4 separate regions of the Homo sapiens genome follow, and all the other regions are linked to region 3. Evidence: fine-mapped expression QTL. A gene starts in region 3. Each other region holds a variant in brackets. All regions are shown on one strand. Distances are between the middles of the regions. Region 1 overlaps METAP1D (methionyl aminopeptidase type 1D, mitochondrial). Region 2 has its middle 87 kb from the start of DYNC1I2. Region 3 holds the start of DYNC1I2 (dynein cytoplasmic 1 intermediate chain 2). Region 4 overlaps SLC25A12 (solute carrier family 25 member 12).

Evidence for each region. PIP is the estimated chance that this variant, and not a neighbour inherited with it, causes the effect.
Region 1: its variant is the best candidate, but not a certain one, in a credible set for the expression of DYNC1I2 in lung (GTEx, PIP 0.51).
Region 2: its variant is the best candidate, but not a certain one, in a credible set for the expression of DYNC1I2 in whole blood (INTERVAL, PIP 0.75).
Region 4: its variant is the best candidate, but not a certain one, in a credible set for the expression of DYNC1I2 in skeletal muscle (GTEx, PIP 0.53).

What each region holds. Positions count from the first base shown.
Region 1 is chr2:172,027,593-172,033,148 of GRCh38, forward strand. The region is part of intron 1 of METAP1D (methionyl aminopeptidase type 1D, mitochondrial); the gene reads left to right. Among named protein-coding and RNA genes, the nearest start is that of METAP1D, 30 kb to the left of the region's middle. The variant T/G (reference allele first, on the strand shown) is at 3,142.
Region 2 is chr2:171,771,939-171,777,494 of GRCh38, forward strand. No RefSeq gene overlaps it. Among named protein-coding and RNA genes, the nearest start is that of DYNC1I2, 87 kb to the left of the region's middle. RefSeq lists an enhancer at 3,331-3,950. The variant G/A (reference allele first, on the strand shown) is at 3,229.
Region 3 is chr2:171,684,703-171,690,258 of GRCh38, forward strand. It overlaps DYNC1I2 (dynein cytoplasmic 1 intermediate chain 2), which reads left to right and starts at 2,767. Exons shown (of 18, transcript NM_001378.3): 1 at 2,767-2,925; 2 at 5,445-5,556. The coding sequence starts at 5,454. RefSeq lists an enhancer at 2,768-2,937.
Region 4 is chr2:171,800,746-171,806,301 of GRCh38, forward strand. The region is part of intron 13 of SLC25A12 (solute carrier family 25 member 12); the gene reads right to left. Among named protein-coding and RNA genes, the nearest start is that of SLC25A12, 91 kb to the right of the region's middle. The variant G/A (reference allele first, on the strand shown) is at 2,597.

The sequences.
Region 1 (5,556 bases), 340 kb after region 3:
TTTGTGTGTGTAAGGATATGAGTGTGTATGTGTATTTATGATTTTGTACGTGTACACGTGTGTATGTCATATTCCCTTCTGACTTAACATTATAATTTCTGAAAATCTTTTTCTTCATTTTTAATTTGTCTTCAGTTGTCGTTTGTGCTAAAGTTTGCATGAAGTTTTCTTATCCCTCACTTTCCAGGTAGCAGTGGAATTTACTCTCTACCTTCTGTTGTGTCTGCTCATGTGACAAGTTCTTTTGGTAAGAAAGTAAAGTCTAAACTATAAAAGTTAAACTCTGAAAGAAGAAAATTCAGGTGCAAAGTGACAAGGATTTCACCAGACTGAAGAGACCTAAAGAAAGGGAGGGCCAGATCCCTCAGCTGCAAGTCTCTTGATTTGGTGAGGGATTAAATGTGCTAGGTCCCCTGGTACTAGTGGGGGCTGGGGTTTCAGACCTCACGGAGTTGCCATTCTGATGGGGAAACAATAGACGCAATTAGACAAACAAACATGATAACTTCAAAATGAGAAACGTGCGTTTAGGGAAATAAACAAAGCTAAGAGGGTGCCAGTAACTAGGGGGGACCACTTTAGAGAGAGAGGTCCCAGAAGGCCTGCTGATGAAGTGACATTTGAGCTGAGGCTCAAAGGCCATGAATGGGCCAGTGATGTGAGAACTTGGTGAAAGAGCAAATGCAGAGCCCAGAAAGGGCTTAGTGTCTCTGAGGAGCAGAAAGGGGGCCCCTGTGGCTGGCGGCAGTGAGTGACAGGAGGGTGGAGTGCCAGGAGGCCAGAGGGAGGTGGGGTCAGACCATTGCAGGCCCTCAAGGCCATAATGGGAAGTTGAAACTATGTTCAAAAAGCAGTGGATAAACATTGAAGAGTTTGAAGCAGGAAAACTTAGTAATTATTCTCACCTAGACTTTTTTTCCTACACATGAGCAGACTTCTGTATGTGTGTCTGTGTGTGTGTGTGTGTGTGTGTGTGTGTGTGTGTGTGTGTGTGTGTGTGTGTTTTCTTAGTGGTAACATGCTGTGTATATAATATGCAACTTGTTTTTCATTTACCAATAATATCTTGGTCATCTCTGAAAGGAAGACTTATAAAGAAAAATAAGGTTTGCCACGAACTATATAACAAATTTAGACATGCAAAAATGTGAAGCTGTGATGGAAAATTAGTTTCTTAGGAATAAAAAAGGAAGGAGAGTGCTTGTTTTTAATGTCTGTTATACCTATGAATTCCCTGTAATAATTTAAGGACATTAAAAATGTATTCTAACTTGATTCTTGATTTTCTCATAAACTTGCCATGATTAGTATGTTACTTTAATTATGTATTTATTGTTAAAGCATCTTTACACACCATTTTTAGTCTTCTAAAATATAGCAGAGACTGAACAAAGTAGGAAAATAGAAGAATAAGAATTCAGTAGACATGCATGGTCAAACCATAACAAACCCAAAGATACTGAGACTCTAGAGAGAATGTGTCACCTTTCAAAGTACTGCTTACTATTGCCAGTAGTTATAAATGTACTTATTAGCTGGGCATGGTGGTTTACGCCTGTAATCCCAGCGCTTTGGGAGGCTGAGGCAGGAGGATTGCTTATCTCTGGAGTTTGAGACCAGCCTGAGCAACTAGGTGAAAACCTGTCTCTACTAAAAATAGAAAAATTAGCCAGGCCTAGTGGCATGTGCCTGTGGTAGTGCACGCCTGTGGTCCCAGCTACTTTGAAGGCTGAGGTGGGAGAATTGCTTGAACCCAGGAGGCTGAGTTTGCAGTAAGCTGAGATCACACCACTGCACTCCAGCATAAGGGATAGAGCCAAACCTTGTCTCAAAGAAGAAGTACTTATTTATTTGCTTTTAAAATATACTTTTGTGAAAAGATATACCTAAAATCCCCAGCACATTTTAGTTCTTGCCCATTTACAAAATAGTATATAGACAAAAGCCTGACTAAGAGAAACTGTCAATATTACAGCGAAACAGAGATAGGGATTGTTTTCTGGTCTTAGAGTTACCATAACATGAGCATCTGTGGTGAGCAAATATTTTCCAGAAAAGCAGGTGAATGAAAAAACTATAGCCCACAAAAATAACCGCCTCAAACTCATGATCCCTAATGTAGGCTCATTTTTAAGTCTACATTTTATTTTTATTTCTACTTACTTACTTATTTATTTTTTGAGACAAAGTCTCACTCTGTTGCCCAGGCTAGAGTGCAGTGGCACCATCTCAGCTCACTGCAACCTCCATCTCCCAGGTTCAAGCAATTCTAATGCCTCAGCTTCCCTAGTAGCTGGGATTTACAGGCATGCGCCACCACATCCAGCTAATTTTTGTATTTTTAGTAGAGATGGGGTTTCACTATGTTGGCCAGGCTGGTCTCAAACTCCTGACTTCAAGTGATCCACCCGCCTGGGCCTCCCAAGGTGCTGGGATTACAGACATGAGCCGCTGCACCCGGCCTTTAAGCCTACATTTTATTTTATTTTATTTATTTATTTATTTATTTTTTTTGAGGCAGAGTTTCACTCTTGTTGCCCAGGCTAGAGTGCAATGGTGTGATCTCGGCTCACCACAACCTCCACCTCCTGGGTTCAAGCAATTCTCCTGCCTCAGACTCCTGAGTAGCTGGGATTACAGGCATGTGCCACCATGCCTGGCTAATTTTTTTTTATTTTTATTAGAGACGGGGTTTCTTTATGTTGGTCAGGCTGGTCTCGAACTCCCGATCTCAGGTGATCTGCCCACCTCGGCCTCCCAAAATACTGGGATTACAGGCGTGAGCCACCACACCTGGCGTAAGCCTACATTTTTAAAAAAATGTATTGCAGAGGTGGAAATGAACTAAAGTAGGCATGAAGTAAGGGTCGAGGTCCAAGGGTGTGTGACACAACATTGCTACCATGTTATAGAGGGATATTCTAAACAAAATCTCTGCATTCTTACCCCATGAACCCTATCTTCAGCCTTTACCACTGGAAAGCATCTTTCTAAATTCAAATCCTTGATTTGCTTCTGGTTTTGTAATAAAGTCATGAGCAATAGGAATGCAGCCAGCAATTACGTTTCTGCTTTTGTCTTAAATTGGAGACCATGGAGCGACATCAATTCGCAGGAAATATACTGTTTCTTAAGAAAGTC[T/G]TTCATTTAACTTTCTTCTGTACTTAAAATTGGAAATATATTTAGCTTCTCTAAATATTTAGTTGTATGTGAACCAGTTGTTAAAGAATGTCTTAATTCTACAGTTAAGCTCACTCACATGTATGTATGTCTCATACATTAAAAATGTCATCCTGCTGTGTAGTTTTAAGAAATTACTTTTCAGAAGTAAAGACTTTAGGTATGATAATGATAATTTAGGAAATGATAATTTAGGAAAATTTTCTCAAGTACTCATCATTTTTAAAAATTCATAATTCAGAAATATTTTATTGGGAGACTAAAGACATTTATAGTATTTTCCCCCAGAGTGTCATATTTTTATAAAACAGGTTATTATTAACAAATGATATAATTTGAAATAATTGGAAAGGTCCACTGGCCCTAAAATATGTCCCCTACAGCCTTCTTGGAACATAAAATGTCCAACTACGTATTAGAATTTTCTTTGGGTTAATGGAGTATCCTCATAAAGGCTTAGTTTAATAGGAGTTATCACTCTGGGTTTTGCCAAGATTGCTTTAGAAGGAATGAGTTGGGTATGTTTTCAGTAGTCTTGGTGAAGACCCCAGAGGAAGAGCAGAGGGTAGGGATCTTGGTGGGAGAGAAGGGAGACACTCCCCTACCAGGGGCTCCAAAAGAGGGCTTTAGGTTGTAGGAAAGGTGGGCAAAGCCTGTCCTTTATAATAATAAAATGTTTAGTTAGAGGGGAGCCATATTTAAAACTATAGCACTAGACTTATCTCAGTTGTAAAATGGATATTATATAATAAGATGGAGGAAGTCATTCACATATGCTTTCTCTCTCTTTTTGAGCACAATACCAAAGTGTTTCCAGAATAATTTGGCACCTTCACTTCCTGCACAGACTTGGAGTAGAGTCCAGAAAACAGTCTAGTTGAATTCTCAGATGGGTTTTTGGCAAGAATACAAAGTAGCTTTATACAGCTCATCTCTGATGCTTTTCACTGAGTGTCTGAAAGAAAAGGGAGGATTTGAGGACCTGATTTAAACAAGGAAGTAACCCAGTGACTTAAAGAGGAGTGTTGTGGAATTCGAATCCCAAAATAAAGCCCTACGTCGTTGACTTTTCAGCCATGGGAATAACCAGTTGCTTCATTGTGTGTTTTGTCAAAGTGCCTCAGCCATTTGGTCGGCCTGATGGTTACCTGCTGCCTCTATTCATAGTTTCTGCGTCCTTTCTTGTTGCCCGGCTGGTCAAACATGTGTAACGGTGCCCTGGGGCACCAAGCATGCCCTCGGGGAGCTAAATGCTGCCAGATGTAGGGAGCAAGGGTTGATTCACATAGCCATAATTTCAATAGCTAATTTTACCTGTTTTCTTTTGGTTTTGGGTTTCCTTCTTAAAGAAAAACCCATTTGGAGTTGAGTTTTTCCCCCTTTAAATTGCAGTCTTATCTTGTTACCTCTAATCTCCCAGCCTCATCCCACTCCCGAAATAAAAGTGTGAGAAGAAAAGAATAGAAAAGATACGTGATTTATTAAGTCTGAGAGATTAATAGTTTTACTTTATGATAAAATCAGTAAAATGTTTCTGTTTTACTGGATTCTGATTAGTATTCTTATTTCAAAGTGAAATTATGTTTCACTTGACTCAACCTTCCCTGTAGAAATCATTTAGATAGAAATAGATCATCTTCTAGATAGATACTTTATGTAATCTCTGATTAGGAACACTGAATTTGTTGTTGAAAGCCCTATATTTTTTAACTCACTCTTGAAAACTGGTTAAGTAGAAGGAAAGAATCAAGCCCTTAACTTGATATATCCTGTATGGAACTGAACCTCAGGATGACCAAATATTTGATGAAAGAAAGTTTCTCTTTTTAGAAGTATTTCTGCCAACAAATTAAGAAGGTCTGAGAGAATATCACCATTTGGCAAACCCCTCGTGAAATAATGAATCTATCTACTGGTCATCAATGGTTGCTAACATCACAAAAAGAGCCACAGCTATCAGAGCACACCACTGTCCATTAAATATTCTTGCCAAAAAAATTGAACTTGAGGCCGGGCGTGGTGGCTCACGCCTGTAATCCCAACACGTTGGGAGGCCGAGGCAGGTGGATCACGAGGTCAGGCGATGGAGACCATCCTGGATAACACGGTGAAACCCCATCTCTACTAAAAATAAAAATTAGCTGAGCCTGGTGGCGGGCGTCTGTAGTCCCAGCTACTCGGGAGGCTGAGGCAGGAGAATGGCGTGAACCCGGGAGGTGGAGCTTGCAGCGAGCTGAGATCACACCACTGCACTCCAGCCTGGGCGACAGAGCAAGACTCCATCTCTAAATAAATAAATAAATAAATAAATAAAAATAAAAAAATCAAACTTGAATCAGAACAAATCCCTAGATTTAATATGTCTACAGGAAATAC
Region 2 (5,556 bases), 87 kb after region 3:
ATTCATAATTGCCAAAACTTGGAAGCAACCAAGATGTCCTTTAGTAGATGAGTGTCTAAATAAATTGTGGTACATCCAGGCTTTGGAATATTATTCACCATGAAAAAGAAATGAGCTATGAAGCCACAAAAAGGCATACAAAAAACTTAAATTGATATTCCTGCTGAGGCAGGAGGATCACTTCAGCCTAGGAGTTCAAGATCAGCCGAAGCAATATAGTGAGATCTCATCTCTACCAAAACAAAACAAAACAAAAAAACAAGTGAAAGAAGCCAATCTGAAAAGGATACATACTGCGTAACTCAAAGTATATGACACTCTGGAAAAGGCAAAACTATGGGGATAGTAAAAAGATTAGTGGTTGTCAGGAATTGGGGGAAGGGAGGGATGTCAGGAATTGGGGGAAGGGAGCGATGAATAGGCAGAGCAGAGTATTTTTAGGGCAATTAAATTATTTTTTACAATGATAAACACACGTCTTTATATCTTCGTCAAAACCTATCAATTAGAACCAAGTGATCACAGCAGAAAAAAAAAGAAAAAGAAAAAGAAAAAACCCTATAGAATGTACACCGCCAAAAGTGAACCCTAATGTAAACTATGGACTTTGGGTGACAATGATGAGTCAATGTAGGTTCATCAAACATACACCACTGTGGTGTGGGATATTGATTCGGGGAAGGGTGTCCAAGTGTGGGGAAAGGAAAGTGGTATATAAGAACTCTGTTTTCCACTCAATTTTGCTATGAACCTAAAACTGCTCTAAAAGATAAAGTTTATTAATTTTTTAAAAAAAGATTTGCCGCCTCATCCTGTGTTCAATTTTTTTTAAAAAAAATTATATGCGCAGAAAAGGGTTGGTAGAAATATTGCAGAGTTGATATCCAGATAACAAAGAATGTCTATAAGTCAATAAAGAAAAAAATTGTAAACCCTATTTAAAATTTAAAAGTAGGCAGTTCACAGAAAGCACACAAATAGGGAACTTCATTCCTAGGAAGATGGCAGGCTATGTTATTTGTATCAGCACTAAAAACTAAAAATGCTAGATTGTTTAAAATTTTCAAAGCACTGAAAAGCTGAGAATATAAGTCAGCAATCTAAGGAAAAGCCAGAACCTAGAGCAGTAAGGTGAGCATTTAAGCAGCTTTTGCACTGTAGGATAATACCAAGTCTTCAAGTGTACTAACATCCTTATATAAAAAAGAGCAGAGTGAATCAATCCAACTTCAATTTTAGAAAATTAAGTATGCATATTATAGATTTACTAAAACAATAAACAAAGTACATAAACTCCAAACAGTGGGAAAAGAATAGAAAAATAAAAATAATTGCTCTAAAACACCCAAGAATATATTAAAAATAAGTAGAGATGGGTCAAAGGAATCACAAAATGAAATGTTATACTTAAATACAAATAAGGTATATCTGTAATTACATTAAATGAACTAAAATGCTTCCACTGAAAGAGTGAAGTCAGACTACACTTTTTTAAAAATGCAAATATATGCTGCTTATAAGTGACATACCTCAAATTAGAGAAAATGTGAAAATAAAAGGACAGAGAAAATTTTCCTTGTAAATATTAAAAAAGAAAAATATAGTTACAGTAATATCAAAAAATAAATTTTCAGACAAAAAGCATTACTAGAGATTAAAAAAAGAGACAATGACAAAAGAATCAATTCATCTGGAAGCTCTTAATTTGTCTTGATGTACCTAATGACATAACCTTAAAATGTAAAAAGCAAACATTGACAGAACTACAAGGAGAAATAGAAAATACAAAATTATAATAGGAAAGTTTAACATGCTTTTTGTTTTTTTACCAATTGACAGAACAAGCAAACAAAAAGTAGGATATAGACATTTTAAATAAATTGCTGTACTTGACCAAATAATGCCATGTGTGAAAGTAGTGAGTACACACATGCCCTCACACAGAGTACCCATCAATAGCAGAATACATATTCTTGTAAGTGTTCATGCAATATTTATTTTAAAATGACGATCTATGGAGCCAAGAGGATTTCAAAAGGATTGTAATCATAGATAGTGTGTCCTTAGACCACAATGCAATTATGTTAGGAATCAATAATAAAAACTAATATCTCCCTCTCCCTCTCCGTCTCCCCACGGTCTCCCTCTCCCTCTCTTTCCACGGTCTCCCTCTGATGCCGAGCCGAAGCTGGACTGTACTGCTGCCATCTTGGCTCACTGCAACCTCCCTGCCTGATTCTCCTGCCTCAGCCTGCTGAGTGCCTGCGATTGCAGGCGCGCGCCGCCATGCCTGACTGCTTTTCGTGTTTTTTTGGTGGAGACGGGGTTTCGCTGTGTTGGCCGGGCTGGTCTCCAGCTCCTAACCGCGAGTGATCCGCCAGCCTCGGCCTCCCGAGGTGCCGGGATTGCAGACGGAGTCTCGTTCACTCAGTGCTCAATGTTGCCCAGGCTGGACTGCAATGACGTGATCTCGGCTAGCTACAACCTCCACCTCCCAGCCGCCTGCCTTGGCCTCCCAAAGTGCCGAGATTGCAGCCTCTGCCCGGCTGCCACCCCGTCTGGGAAGTGAGGAGCGTCTCTGCCTGGCCGCCCATCATCTGGGATGTGAGAAGCCCCTCTGCCCAGCTGCCCAGTCTGGGAAGTGAGAAGCGCCTCTTCCCGGCCGCCATCCCGTCTAGGAAGTGAGGAGCGTCTCTGCCCGGATGCCCATCGTCTGAGATGTGGGGAGCGCCTCTGCCCCACCGCCCCGTCTGGGATGTGAGGAGCACCTCTGCCCGGCCGCGACCCCATCTGGGAGGTGAGGAGCGTCTCTGCCCAGCCGCCCCGTCTGAGAAGTGAGGAGCCCCTCTGCCCGGCAGCCGCCCCGTCTGAGAAGTGAGGACCCCCTCCGCCCGGCAGCCGCCCCGTCCAGGAGGGAGGTGGGGGGCAGCCCCCGCCCGGCCAGCTGCCCCGTCCGGGAGGGAGGTGGGGGCCAGCCTCTGCCCGGCCGCCGCCCCGTCCGGGAGGTGGGGGGCGCCTCTGCCCGGCCGCCCTTTCTGGGAAGTGAGGAGCCCCTCTGCCCAGCCGCCACCCCGTCTGGGAGGTGTACCCAACAGCTCATTGAGAACGGGCCATGATGACGATGGCAGTTTTGTCGAATACAAAAGGGGGAAATGTGGGGAAAAGATAGAGAAATCAGATTGTTGCTGTGTCTGTGTAGAAAGAAGTAGACATAGGAGACTCCATTTT[G/A]TTCTGTACTAAGAAAAATTCTTCTGCCTTGGGATGCTGTTGATCTGTGACCTTACCCCCAACCCGGTGCTCTCTGAAACATGTGCTGTGTCCACTCGGTTAAATGGATTAAGGGTGGTGCAAGATGTGCTTTGTTAAACAGATGCTTGAAGGCAGCATACTCGTTAAGAGTCATCACCACTCCCTAATCTCAAGTACCCAATGACACAAACACTGCGGAAGGCCGCAGGGTCCTCTGCCTAGGAAAACCAGAGACCTTTGTTCACTTGTTTATCTGCTGACCTTCCCTCCACTATTGTCCTATGACCCTGCCAAATCCCCCTCTGGGAGAAACACCCAAGAATGATCAATAAAAACAAAAACAAAAACAAAAAAAACTAATATATATTTTCCCAAATTTTGAAATTAAGAAACATTCTTCTAAATAACTCATGAGTCCAAGAAGAAATAATAATCAATGAAGAGTTCCTTCTCAGTTTCTAGCATATGATGATTAGAAAAGAGTTCTTAAAAAAATAGTGAAAATGTCCTAGCTTTCTTTAAATAATAATAATGAGGGGCTGGGCATAATGGCTCACACCTGTAATCCCAACACTTTAAGAGGCTGAGATGGAAGGATTCCTTCAGCCCAGGAGTTTGAAACCAGCCTGGGTAACATAGGGAAATCCTATCTCTACCAAAAAAAAAAAAAAAAAAAATTACAAATTAGCTGGCTTTGGTGTCATACACCTGTGGTCCCAGCTACTTGGGAGGCTGAGGTGGGGGATTACTTAAGCCTGGGAAGTCAAGGCTGCAGTGAGCTGTGATTATGTCACTGCACTCCAGCCTGGGCAACAGAGTGAAAACCCTATCTGAGAGAGAGTGAGAGAGTGAGTGAGGGTGAGGGAGAGAGAGAGAGAGACATCTCAAGAAGTTAGAAAGAGAATGGTAGGCAGGGCATGGTGGCTCACACCTGTAATCCTAGCACTTTGGGAGGCTGAGGTGGGTGGGTTACTTGGAGTCAGGAGTTCAAGACCAGCCTGGCCAACATGGTGAAATCCCGTCTCTACCAAAAAACAAAAATTAGCAAGGCATAGTGGGGGTGCCTGTAATCCCAGCTGCTCAGAAGGCTGAGACAGGAGAATCACTTGATCCCAGGAGGCGGAGGTTGCAGTGAGCCGAGATTGCATCACTGCACTCCAGCCTGGATGACAGATGAGACTCTGTTTCAAAAAAAAAAAGAAAAGAAAGAATGGCAAAATAGCCTAAGAAAATAGAAGAAAAACAGATAAGAGCAAAAATTAACGAAATAGCTGGGCCTGATGGCTCACACCTGTAATCCCAGCAATTTGGGAGGCTGAGGCAGGCGGATCACTTGAGGCCAGGAGTTTGAGACCAGCCTGGCCAACATGGTGAAACCCTGTCTCTACTAAAAATATAAAAATTAGCCAAGCATGGTGGCATGCACCTGTAATCTCAGCCACTTGGGAGGCCAAGGCAGGAGAATCACTTGAACCCAAGAGGCAGAGGTTGCAATGAGCCAAAGTCATGCCACTGCACTCCAACCTGGGTGTCAGAGCGAGACTCTGTCAAAAAAAAAAAAAAAAAAAAAAAGGATCAACACAGCCAGAAGTCAGTTCTCTGTAAAAACTAATAAAATTGACCAATCTCTGGACTGAATCATTAAAATACAGAAAGAAGTCACAAACAATATCAGAAATGAATAAGAAGAAATATTAAATGCTATAGGGCCAGATGTGGTGACTCATGCCCATAAACCTAGCACATTAGGAAGCTGAGGGGCAAGGATCACTTGAGCCTGAGTTCAAGACCAACTTGGGCAACATAGTGAGACCCTGTCTCTACAAAAAATAAAAAGTAAAATATTAGCCAGGCTTGGTGGCAGGCACCTGTAGCTCCAGACACTTGGGAGCCCAAGGTGGGAGGATCACTTGAGCCCAGGTGGTCAAGGCTGCAGTGAGCTATAATGGTGCCTCTGCACTTCAGCATGGCTGGCAGAGTGACCCTTTCTCTTTGTCTCTATTTATTTATTTATTATTTAATTAAATGTATTTCATTTATTTCATTTATTACATATAATTTAAAATGCTACAGACATTAAAAATAAAATACTTTTAAAATTTAAATAAAACTGGCTGGGCACAGTAGCTCACGCCTGTAATCCCAGCACTTTGGGAGGCCGAGGCGGGAGGATCACGAGGTCAGGAGATCAAGACCATCCTGGCTAACATGGTGAAACCTCATCTCTACTAAAAATACAAAAAATTAGCCGGGCGTGGTGGCAGGTGCCTGTAGTCCTAGCTACTCGGGAGGCTGAGGCAGGAGAAT
Region 3 (5,556 bases):
GGCCTCCCAAAGTGCTGGGATTATAGGCATGAGCCACTGTACCCACTCAAAAGCTACATTATCCAGCCAGTATATTGAGTGGTTTTCAGTGGGAAGAGGTATCTAGTCTGCTTTATTGCTGTAGAAGTCTCACATAATGTTAACATTTCTCCAATCCATCTACTTTTCTTAATTCTCACTGATGATGCATCAGTTCATGCATTTATAATTGCTGGCTCTACCCAAATTCTTCCAGTTGCATTCCCTGCTTCCAGTCTCTACCTTACCTCTTTCTCCACCTCTCATCCCTCTAGGCAAGCTGTATCAACAAGGGTCTCAACAAGAAACAGAATTCACAAGATAGTTCACATGAAAATACTTTAATGAAAGGACAAGTTACAGAGGGGTGAGCGGGTATTAAGGGAACAAACGAGATGATGAGGCACTCAGAGACTAGCTACAGAGGAGGTGTTCAAGAGATAAAAGGAGAACATAAAATCACCAGACAGCCCGGGGAAAACTAGAGCCATGGTGAAAGAGCCATCTGGCAGGTACTGTAGTCATGAAGGAATGAAGCTATTGCTGGACATCTGACACTCAAAGAAGGAAGGAGCAAGGAAGAGATGCCCCAATTTCCCTTTCTACCCACCTTCTGATATCCTTGCCTTGGCCTTCTTTATGTCCAACCACAAAGCAGTCCTTAAAGAAACTGAGGTCAACCCTCAGAGGCATAGAGCTTAGCAAAGAAGGGCAGGAAATGAATCTGGGGGGCAAAGAAAATAACCAGCACATTAGTCTTTCTCCGGACTACTTTGAAAGGCCAGTCATCTAAAATGCAAACCTTCTCATACCTTGCACCCTCTTAAAATCTACCAGTGGATTCACATCATCTGTAGGACTAAATCTAAACTGGGATGTGCGACTTTGCCCCTGCTTATGGCTTCATTCCCCAGTTCCTGTCTTAGCCTACGGCCATTGTGAATTATTTCCAAATTCACCAGCATTCTATGCTCTCACACCTCTGTCCTTTGTCCATATTCTTTTCTCTTCCCAAGGCACCTTTCTGCATCTTCTCTGCTTGGCTAACTTCTTCTACTCAACCTTTGAGAATCAAAGACTTAGCTCTAGAATCACCTCCTTCCAAAAGTTTCCTGAAAAGTTTTTCCAGGTGTTTCTATGACTTCCTTATATAATTCCATCATTATACAGATGCTCCTTGAGTTATGTCCTGATAAACCCATTTTAAGTCAAAAATATATGTTGAAAATGCATTTTACTCTAATAAGCCCATTGTAATGAGAAAAAAATCATAAGTTAAACCATCAGTCAGGAACCATCCATTCTTAGTTGAGCGAGTGTCCTTTCTCCCTTGAGAAGAAGGATGTGCATTTTTGTGCATTTTTATGTTTTTTGTTTTTTTTGTTTCTTTTTCTTTTTTTTTTTTTTGAGGCAGGGTCTTGCTCTGTCTCCCAGGCTGGAATGCAATTGTGTAATCTCAGCTCACTATAACCTCCGCCTCCTGGGCGCAAGCCATCCTCCTGCCTCAGCCTCGTGACTAGCTAGGACTACAGGCGCATGCCACACACCCTGCTAATTTTTCTATTTTTTGTAGAGACGGGGTTTCACCATGTTGCCCAGGCTGGTCTCTAAGTCCTGAGCTCAGGTGATCTGCCTGCCTCGGCCTCCCAAAGTGCTGGGATTACAGGTGTGAGCCACTGCGCCTGGTCCATTTTAGCTGTTACCACAACACCCATCACCATTGCTGGCACATGGTAGGCAATCAATAATAATTTTTTTTCAAATTAATACATGAAAACTATTAGGAAAGAAGTAAAAAAATAACATAGCTATAAAGCTCTTTGAATGTTAGGTTATTGGGAAAAGCTGTGGAAAGCCAAGGATTTTCTTTCTCAAATTTATTTTTAGAATATTTTTTTCTACACAAAAGACCACAGATAAGGCAGAGAAAGATAAGAAAAAGACCACAAGCCCAAGGACTTGGAATTTGAATCATAAAGGTTCATTCTAGACTTGGGCAATATCTAGAACTTCTAGAACAATCAGTTTTCTAGAACATAGAAAAGATATTACCTTGGTGTTAGCTTTAACTCCTGCCAAATAATGCTTTAAATTATTTAAACTTTAAAAAGGTGTGTCAATGTATACATTGCAGGTAAATTCATGTTCCAGTAACTTTTGTTTTCTTTGTATGTTAAAAATCTAACTGTGGAAAACATTCTAGCTTGGTTTGAGAGTCCAATAATACAAAATGCTTTATTTCCTAAAATTGTTTGAGAGAAAACCAAAATGCTACCACACTGCAACAAAATACTAAAGAATTATTTGCTATGTCAGTTGACATATTTTTATTTAGATTTTGCCTAAGATGCCACATGAAGCCTATATAAGACATTCTTTCCCTAAAACTTACATATGTATGTACATATATATATATAATGTTTTACATCCTAAACAGTCTACTTCACGTCTTCACCAAATGTGCAGCAGCGTGATTCACAGGTTCACCACTGGAAAATAGACCTTAAAATTCCGCCAATATTGGGTCAAAGATCTTACACTATAACACATACTACACTGTGGGCACGGATCAACAGACGAGAATACTTTATACAGAAGCTTCTCGACGGAAGAAGGCCTTGGAGTGGGAAATCTAAAGGAGGGGACACACTACATGTCCCAGCACACCTTGCGACGCCCAGCGACCACAATTCCCAGAACGCACTGCTCGTCGCACGCAGGTTTTCCTTGTTGCCGGGGTTTGTAGTTCTTCTCGATCGTGTCAGTTTGTAAGGCGAGGGCGGAAGTTGGATTCCTGGCCTGAGAATATTAGGCGTAGTTTTCCAGTTTTTGGCAAAGCGGAAATACTTAAGGCCCCTGGGTTGACTGGGTTCTTTGTTTTATCTACCGGCTTCTGCTTTACGACAGGTAAGTCACGGAGGGGCTACAATTCCTCGCAGCAGGGCCCCACCTTTTATTTCTGGGAGCGACCTCGTTCTGGTGAGGCTATTTGTCCCTAAGCTCTCGCCGTAGCAGCCGCCGCCCATCCCTCTTTGTGTGCTTTGGAAAGCCGCGGAGCTGGTGGTGGCTACAGTTGGTGTTGGGGGCTTAGGCGAGGGACGTTACCGGGAAGTTGCAGGCGGGAGGACTCTTCCCCATCCAGTCACCTGACAGGTGGGTTGACTGTTCTTCCCTCAAGGCCTCCCTGCCTGTGTTCCACGTCGCAACTCGAAGGGCGGCTTGGCAGTTCCTGCTGACATCCCCGCCCGGCCCAGCTTTGGGGAGGAAAGGCGGGGAGACCTGGGTGCGGTGACTCATTGCGGCCCGGCGAGAGGAGTCCACTCCTTTCCCTTCTCGACCCTCCAGAGGCGGCCTGGGGAGCCTTGAGGCTTGTCCGGCGCCCACTGGCTTCTTCCGGACGCCCTGCCGTGGACCGCGCCCTCTTGGCCGTGACCCCAGGGGAGAAAGTGATTCGTTTTCGCCTTGCCCCATTTTACAAATTAAGGCCATCTCTACTTGCCTTGATAGTGTCTCCCCTCACCTTATGTGTGATGGAAAGCCCCCGAACACGGAGGTTCTAGCACAAAACTCTAGAGACTCTCTTCTCTTGAGTTTTAAGAACGTGAACATGTCGGTCATGGAGGAAGGCTCTGGCTTCTGTGAGGATGAGAGGATTGGTCAGCTGTAGTTCAGCTGGTCAAGACTTTGTTGTTGGGCTTTAAAAATGCGCTTATTTTAATATCAATTAGTGTTGGTATATCTGTTTTACAGTTGACGTTGAACAAAATATAATGTGCCTAGCGTAGCATACAGTTACGTATGGAAGTTCTCTTCACCAGCCGTTTGTATGGAGCTGTTTAGAGGTGTAGAAAGAGTGGAATAAGAAACACGGTCTCTTGCTTTTAGTTTGTTCAAACAAATCTTGGAAGATATTGTGTATATATTTCAGGTCTGCTATGTCAACTTTTCATCCTTTTCGTATGCTTGAAAATTATCAATTCGCTTGCCAGTCTTAATGGAGTTTAGTAGCTGAAATTTCCTTTATCCACTTCTTAGTAGGTGAATTTCTCCTCTTGACTGACTTACCTTTGTTCAGATTTAACAATTGTGCTTTTTAAGAGATTTCCCCTAACCTCTGGAAATACAGTTTTCCAGAGGTTATTCTCCTAGTTTTCTTGATCTAAAGCATTTAATACTTCACTTGTACAGAGACATTGAAAGAGATTGATCATTAGGCAATAAGTCAATCATGTGGAGAAGGTAAGGAGTTCCTGGCTCCTGCCTTATGCTCAGCTGCTAGGCTACTTAAAAAAAAAAAATCCTAATTCATTATTTCTTCCTAAAACTCAAGCTGAAGTAGTGTTTATGCAATTGGTTTTTGAAGCTCAGATTGTAATTGTGTCTACCGTATCCATTATTCATTAGCCAGTGTCAATTGTAATGTTAAGGTCATTCTGCTGGATGTTGTGAAGGCAACAAAAATAACTAAAAAACAGTCCCTGATTTCAAGTACATTACAATCTAATAGGGAACATTTCAGGTATGTCCACAAATAATTGTACTAAAAGTGCCATCAGAGGTATACGTAAGGTGTTATTGTGGAGAAATACAGTCATATGATTTGATAGCTAATGATGGTAACTCCTGCGTTTTGCTTTAGTATTACTACAGCACTTTTAGAACTTACAGGAAAGTTCAGTTTGACCTATTGTTTTTTATCAAGTTTCTATGAATGCAATAGAATTGGTAATAGTTTTGATCTGTGTCATATAGCTTAAGAGCTTCTAAATGCCAAACCATGTCCTCTGTTTTAAGAGCCAGTTTTGACCTTTATCTTGGGTACCTAATATATTGTCATCAAAAACTTTGAGACATTGTGTTCAGTTTGTGTATGCGAACATTAAAGTGCTTACTATGGGCTAGCTACTATGCTCAGCTCTAGGTAATATTTATTATATATATTTGTTTATACATTTTTTAAGTCTTAGTAATAATATATATGCTTCCTTTATTTTATCTTTTAAAAGTTTATTTTTTAGAGACGCTCTGTTGCCCAAGCTGGAGTGCAGTGGCATGATCACGGCTCACTGCAGCCTTGACTTCCTGGGCTCCAGCAATCCTTCCAAGTAGTTGGGACTACAGGCACATGCCACCATGCCGCCTAATTTTTTATTTTTCTTGCCTTTTTTTTTTTTTTTTTTTTTTTTGTAGAGATGGGGTCTTGCTTTGTTGCCCAGGCTGGTCTCAAACTCATGGCCTGAAGCAGTTCTCCCACTTTAGCCTCCCAAAGTAAGCTACTGCCCAGCCCCATTATTTTAAAAGTAAGGTTTTTGTGCTTTTTTGAGATAGCATTGAACTATATGGCCTTTCGGGACAGTTCTCTTCTTGGAACACTAGTTTTTTCAACTGTGCTGCTTTTACTAACATAATGATTATATGTTTCTAAGGTCACAAACATGTCAGACAAAAGTGAATTAAAGGCTGAGTTGGAACGTAAGAAGCAGCGACTGGCCCAAATCAGAGAGGAAAAGAAGAGAAAAGAAGAAGAAAGGAAAAAAA
Region 4 (5,556 bases), 120 kb after region 3:
AATTCGTACGATGAAATACTACTCAGCAAAATTTAAAACAAACACAAACCTGATACCCACACAAGGATGACTCTCTGAAAACATGTTAAACAAAAGAAGCCAGCCATGAAAGAATGCATCTCGTGCACTCCATTTACATGAAATCCAAGAACAACAAAACTTCAGACAGAAATCAGAAGTGTGGTTGCATGGGGTAAGGGAGAAGGGACTGAATGGAAAGACGCATGAACGACTTTTCTGGGGTGAAATGTTCATTATCTTAGGTGGTGATTACATGGGTGTATACAACTGTCAAAACTCATTGAGCTGAATATCTAAAATCTGTTCCTTTTAAAAATGTTAATTATACCTAAAAAACCAAATATGTAAATATGTCATATTCATACACTTATTAAAGGAAGGAAGGAAAGAGGCAAGAAAGTCACTATAAAGTTGAATAGTGTCATCTAGATTTATTTTGACACAATCAATGATTTGATTCCCCCAAAAGGACATCATAGAATAAAAGGACTTGGTCTAAAAAAATCAGAATACTTGGGTTCACATGAAACCTCCAGCATATATTAGCTGTGTAAATTGGGGTAAGAGAGTTAGCCTTTTTGGACTTCTGTTTCTCATCTACCTATTTTATAGAGGGTGACAATAATGCATAATAATGTACTTTGAAAATTCTAGGTTGACATTAAGGTACTATTTTTGCCCACAATAGATATCATAATCAAACATTCAATTATATTTGTGTCTTCGAATAAACATACATTTGTACATATAAATATTATATATAAACACATATATACAGGTGGTCCCCAACTTAACAATGATACAACTTATGGTTTTTTGACTTTACAATGGTGCAAAAGCAATATGCATTCAGTAGAAACAATACTTCAAGTACTCATACAGCCTGTTTTTCACTTTCAGTACAGTATTCAATAAATTACATGAGATATCCAATACTGTATTATAAAACAGGCTTTGTGTTTTATGATTTTGCCCAATTATAGGCTAACATAAGTGTTCTGAGCATGTTTTAGGTAGGATAGGCTAAGCTATGACATTCAGAAGGTTAGGTGTATTAAGTGCACTGTTGACCTAAAAATTTCCAACTCATGATAGGTTTATTACAATGTAACCTCATTGGAAGTCGAGGAATATCTGGATCTGTGTGTGTGTGTGTGTGTGTGTGTGTGTGTGTGTGTGTGTGTACAGAAAGACAGAAATTTTCTAATAGAAAAATAAACATATGGTCTGATAAGAATGGTTTACCTATGAGAATAACAGGAAAAATTATTTAAAACCTACTGTTACATATTTAATACTCATACAACACTCAACATTCATAAGAGATATTTACTGAGCAACTGTATACACACACATACAATCTTACCCCATCTCCACCTAAAAAAGGGTCAAGCAATTTTAAAAAATTATTATTATTTGTAGAGATGGGGGGTCCCACTATGTTGCACAAGCTGGCCTTGAACTCCTAGGCTCAAGCCATCTTCCCACCTCAGCCTTCCAAAGTGTGGAGGTTACAGTCATGAGCCACCACACCTAGCCAAGGTCAGGCAATTTAACCTAGAGTTCAATTTATAGATACTACAAACAAATAAACAAAAAACATGTTGGGATAGCACATCCAAGTTATCATAAATTCTGAATGAGTAAGTTTGTTTGAGAAGATTTTGATATAGATACAAAACACAAGTTTGGTTAATGTTCACAATGAGATTTAAAAATCTGAAAATGGGCCAGGCACTGTGGCTCACACCTGTAATCCCAGCACTTTGGGAGGCTGAAGTGGGTGGATCACGAGGTCAGAAGATCGAGACCATCCTGGCTAACACGGTGAAACCCCGTCTCTACTAAAAATACAAAAAATTAGCCAGGCCTGGTGGCGGGTGCCTGTAGTCCCAACTACTCGGGAGGCTGAGGCAGGAGAATGGCGTGAACCCGGGAAGCGGAGCTTGCAGTGAGCCAAGATCACGCTACTGCACTCCAGCCTGGGCGACAGTGCGAGACTCTGTCTCGAAAAAATAAAAATAAAAATAAAAATCTGAAAATGCACAATCTGTTTATACTACTATTCCCAAAGGTTATATACTACTTCTAAAATAAGACATTCCACTGTGACTCCCTCTTTCCTGTAGTAAGTGAGAGTTGCTTGCATTTCCAATCAGGAAGTCAGAGTCAACAAAACTTCCATCTGGTTTTAAAAAGTGTGTGTGTGTGTGTGTGTACACATGTGCACACATATGTCTATGCATAAGAGCATGTACACATGTATATGAAAACATTAGAAGGAAATACACCAAAACATTAGCAATCAAAACTAAAACAAAACTGACATTTAGTAATATCTCTCTCTGTTCAAGGCAAAAAAAAAAAACCTAAAAAACTTAGGCTTAAAAATCGGAAAAGACCTAGATGTAAAAGCTAAAACTATAAAACTCTGAAAAGAAAAAAGGAGGCATACATATAAAGTCAATTTCTATATACCAGAAAAAAAAGGCATACATCTTTCATGATCTTGGATTAATGACTTCTTAGATATAACACCAAAAGCACAAACAACAAAAGAAAAAATAGATTAAAC[G/A]AACTTCATTAAAGCCCAATTCTTCAAAAGACATCATCAAGAAAATAAAAAATATCTGAAAAGGGACTCATATCTAGAATATACAAAGAACTCTGTAACCAAAAAACAATCCAATTTAAAAATAGGCAAAAATTCTGAATAGACATTTTTTCAAAGAAGATATACAAGTGGTCAATATGCACACAAAAAGATGCTCAACATTGTCAGTCATTAGGCCACAATAAGGTATCACTTTTCACTCAGTAAGATGGCTATAGTAAAAAGACAATAAGAAGTGTTATCAAAGATGTGGAAAGTAGCTGTGCATGATGGCACATGCCTGTAGTCCCAGCTACTCAGGAGGATGGGGCAGGAAGATCACTTGAGGCCAGGAGTTCGAGGCTGTAGCATGTGATGTTCACACCTGTGAACAGTCACTGCACTCTCAGCTTGGGCAACATAGTGAGACGCTACCATTATTTAAAAAAATACACACACACACACACACACACGCGCGCACACACATACTAGCAAAGATGTAGAGAAATCAGAAGCTTCACACTACTAGTAGGGATGCAAAAGGATGTAGCCACTTTGAAAAACAGTCTGGCAGTCCTGAAAATGCTAATTACAGTTGTCATATGACACACCAATTCCACTCATACGTATATACCCAAGAGAAATGAAAACATGTCCATGCAAAACCTTATATACCAATATTCATAGCAGCATTATTCATAAGTCAAAAGGTAGAAACAACTCAAATGTTTATCAACTAATGAATGAACAAACTGTAGTATATCCATATATTCAGCAATAAAAATGAATTAAGTACTGATACATGCTACAACACAGATGAACCTTGAAAACACGCTAAGTGAAAAAAGTTAGGCACAATGTCATGCTTACAAAAGGCCACATATCATGATTCCTTATTTATTTATTTATTTATTTTGAGACAGAGTCTCTCTCTGTTGCCCAGGCTGGAGTGCAGTGGGCACAATCTCTGCTCATTGCAACCTCCGCCTCCCAGGCTCAAGTGATTCTCCTGCCTCAGCCTCCCAAGTAGCCAGGATTAAAAGCACCTGCCACCACGCCTGGCTAATTTTTGCATTTTTTATAAAGATGGGGTTTCACACCATGTTGGCCAGGCTGGTCTCAAACTCCTGACCTCAAGTGATCCACACACCTCAGCCTCCCAAAGTGCTGGAATTATAAGCATGAGCCACCACGCCCAGCCTCCATTTATATAAAATATTCAGAATTGGTGAATTTGTAAAAACAGAAAGTATATTAATAGTTGCCTAGAGGCCAAGTGCAGTGGCTCGTATCTGTAACTCTAGTACTTTGGGAGGAGGAGGCAGAAGGATTGCTTGAGGCCAGGAGCTCAAGGCCAGCCTGGCCAAGTAAGACCCTGTCTCTATGAAAAACTTAAAAATTAGCTGAGGGTGGTGGCACACACCTGCAGTCCTAGCTACTCATGAAGCTGAGGTGGGAGGATTGCCTGAGCCGGCAGTTCAAGGTTGCTGTGAGCCTTGATCGCACCACTGCACTCCTGCCTGGGCAATACAGTTGCCTAGATCTTACGGATGGGATGGGAAGATTGAGAAGTGATAGCTAAAAGGTACTGCATTTCTTTCTGTGTTGATAAAAATGTTCTAAAATTGATTGTGGTGATGGTTTCACAACAAAACACTGAATTATACACATTAAATGGGGGAGTTGTATGGTACGTTAAGTATATCTCAATAAAGCTGTTATTTTTTCTGTTTTTTTGTTTTGTTTTGTTTTTTGTTTTTTTTTTTTGAGACAGAGTCTCACTCTGTTGCCCAAGCTGGAGTGCAGTGGCACGATCACAGCTCACTGCAACCTCCACCTCCTGGGTTCAAGCGATTCTCCTACCTCAGCCTCCCAAGTAGCTGGGACTGTAGGAACGCGCCACTTCACCTGGCTAATTTTTTTGTATTTTCAGTAGAGACGGGGTTTCACTATGTTGGCCAGGCTGGTCTCGAACTCCTGACCTCAGGTGATCCACTTGCTTCGGCCTCCCAAAGTACTGGGATTACAGGCGTGAGCCACCGCCCCCGGCCTAAAGGTGGTATTTTTAAAATTTGCATGAAAGATATCAGGTATTCAATGAGTAAGTGAATATATGAAAGAACAAATGAAAACCTATATCAAGTGTGAAAGAATATGGATTTGGAGATAGAAGTGGTTTGAACCACAATTTTGATATTTACTAAGTCAAAATTTGGATTTCACTAAGGTTTTAGTTTTTTCAACTCTAGTTGGGAACAATAATGAGATAATCCCTATAAAATGTTCAGCCCAGTAAGAAAGGTATCTATTCCTCATTAGCTGATTCAAGCTACATCAAAAGCAATAATCATCATCAACAATAGTAGTAACGTTTTAGTTAAGTTGGGTGCTAGAAGCATGGATGCTCATTTTATTATTCTGTAATTATATTGTTTGTATTCTTTTGCATGTATCAAAAATCACAGGCCTTGGCCAGCCTGGTGACTCACACCTGTAATCCCAAAACTAGGAGGCCAAGGCAGGTGGGTTGCTTGAGCCCAGGAATTCGAGACCAGCCTGGGCAACATGATGAAACCCCATCTCTACAAAAAATACAAAAATTAGCAGAGGATGGTGGCATGCACCTGTAGTCCCAGCTACTGGGGAGGCTGAGAGATGGGAGGAGCCCTTGAGCCCAGGAGTTGTCAAGGCTGCAGTGAGCTGAGATCGCACCACGCCACTCCAGCCTGGGCAACAGACTGAGATCCTGTCTCAAAAAAGAAGAAAAACAAACAAACAAAAAAACAAAAATCACATGCCTTTAAAAACAGATCATAAAGACCGGGTGTGGTGGCTCACGCCCGTAATCCCAGCACTTTGGGAGGCCGAGGCCGGTGGATCACCTGAGGTCGGGAGTTTGAGACCAGCCTAACATGGAGAAACCCCAGCTCTACTAAAAATAC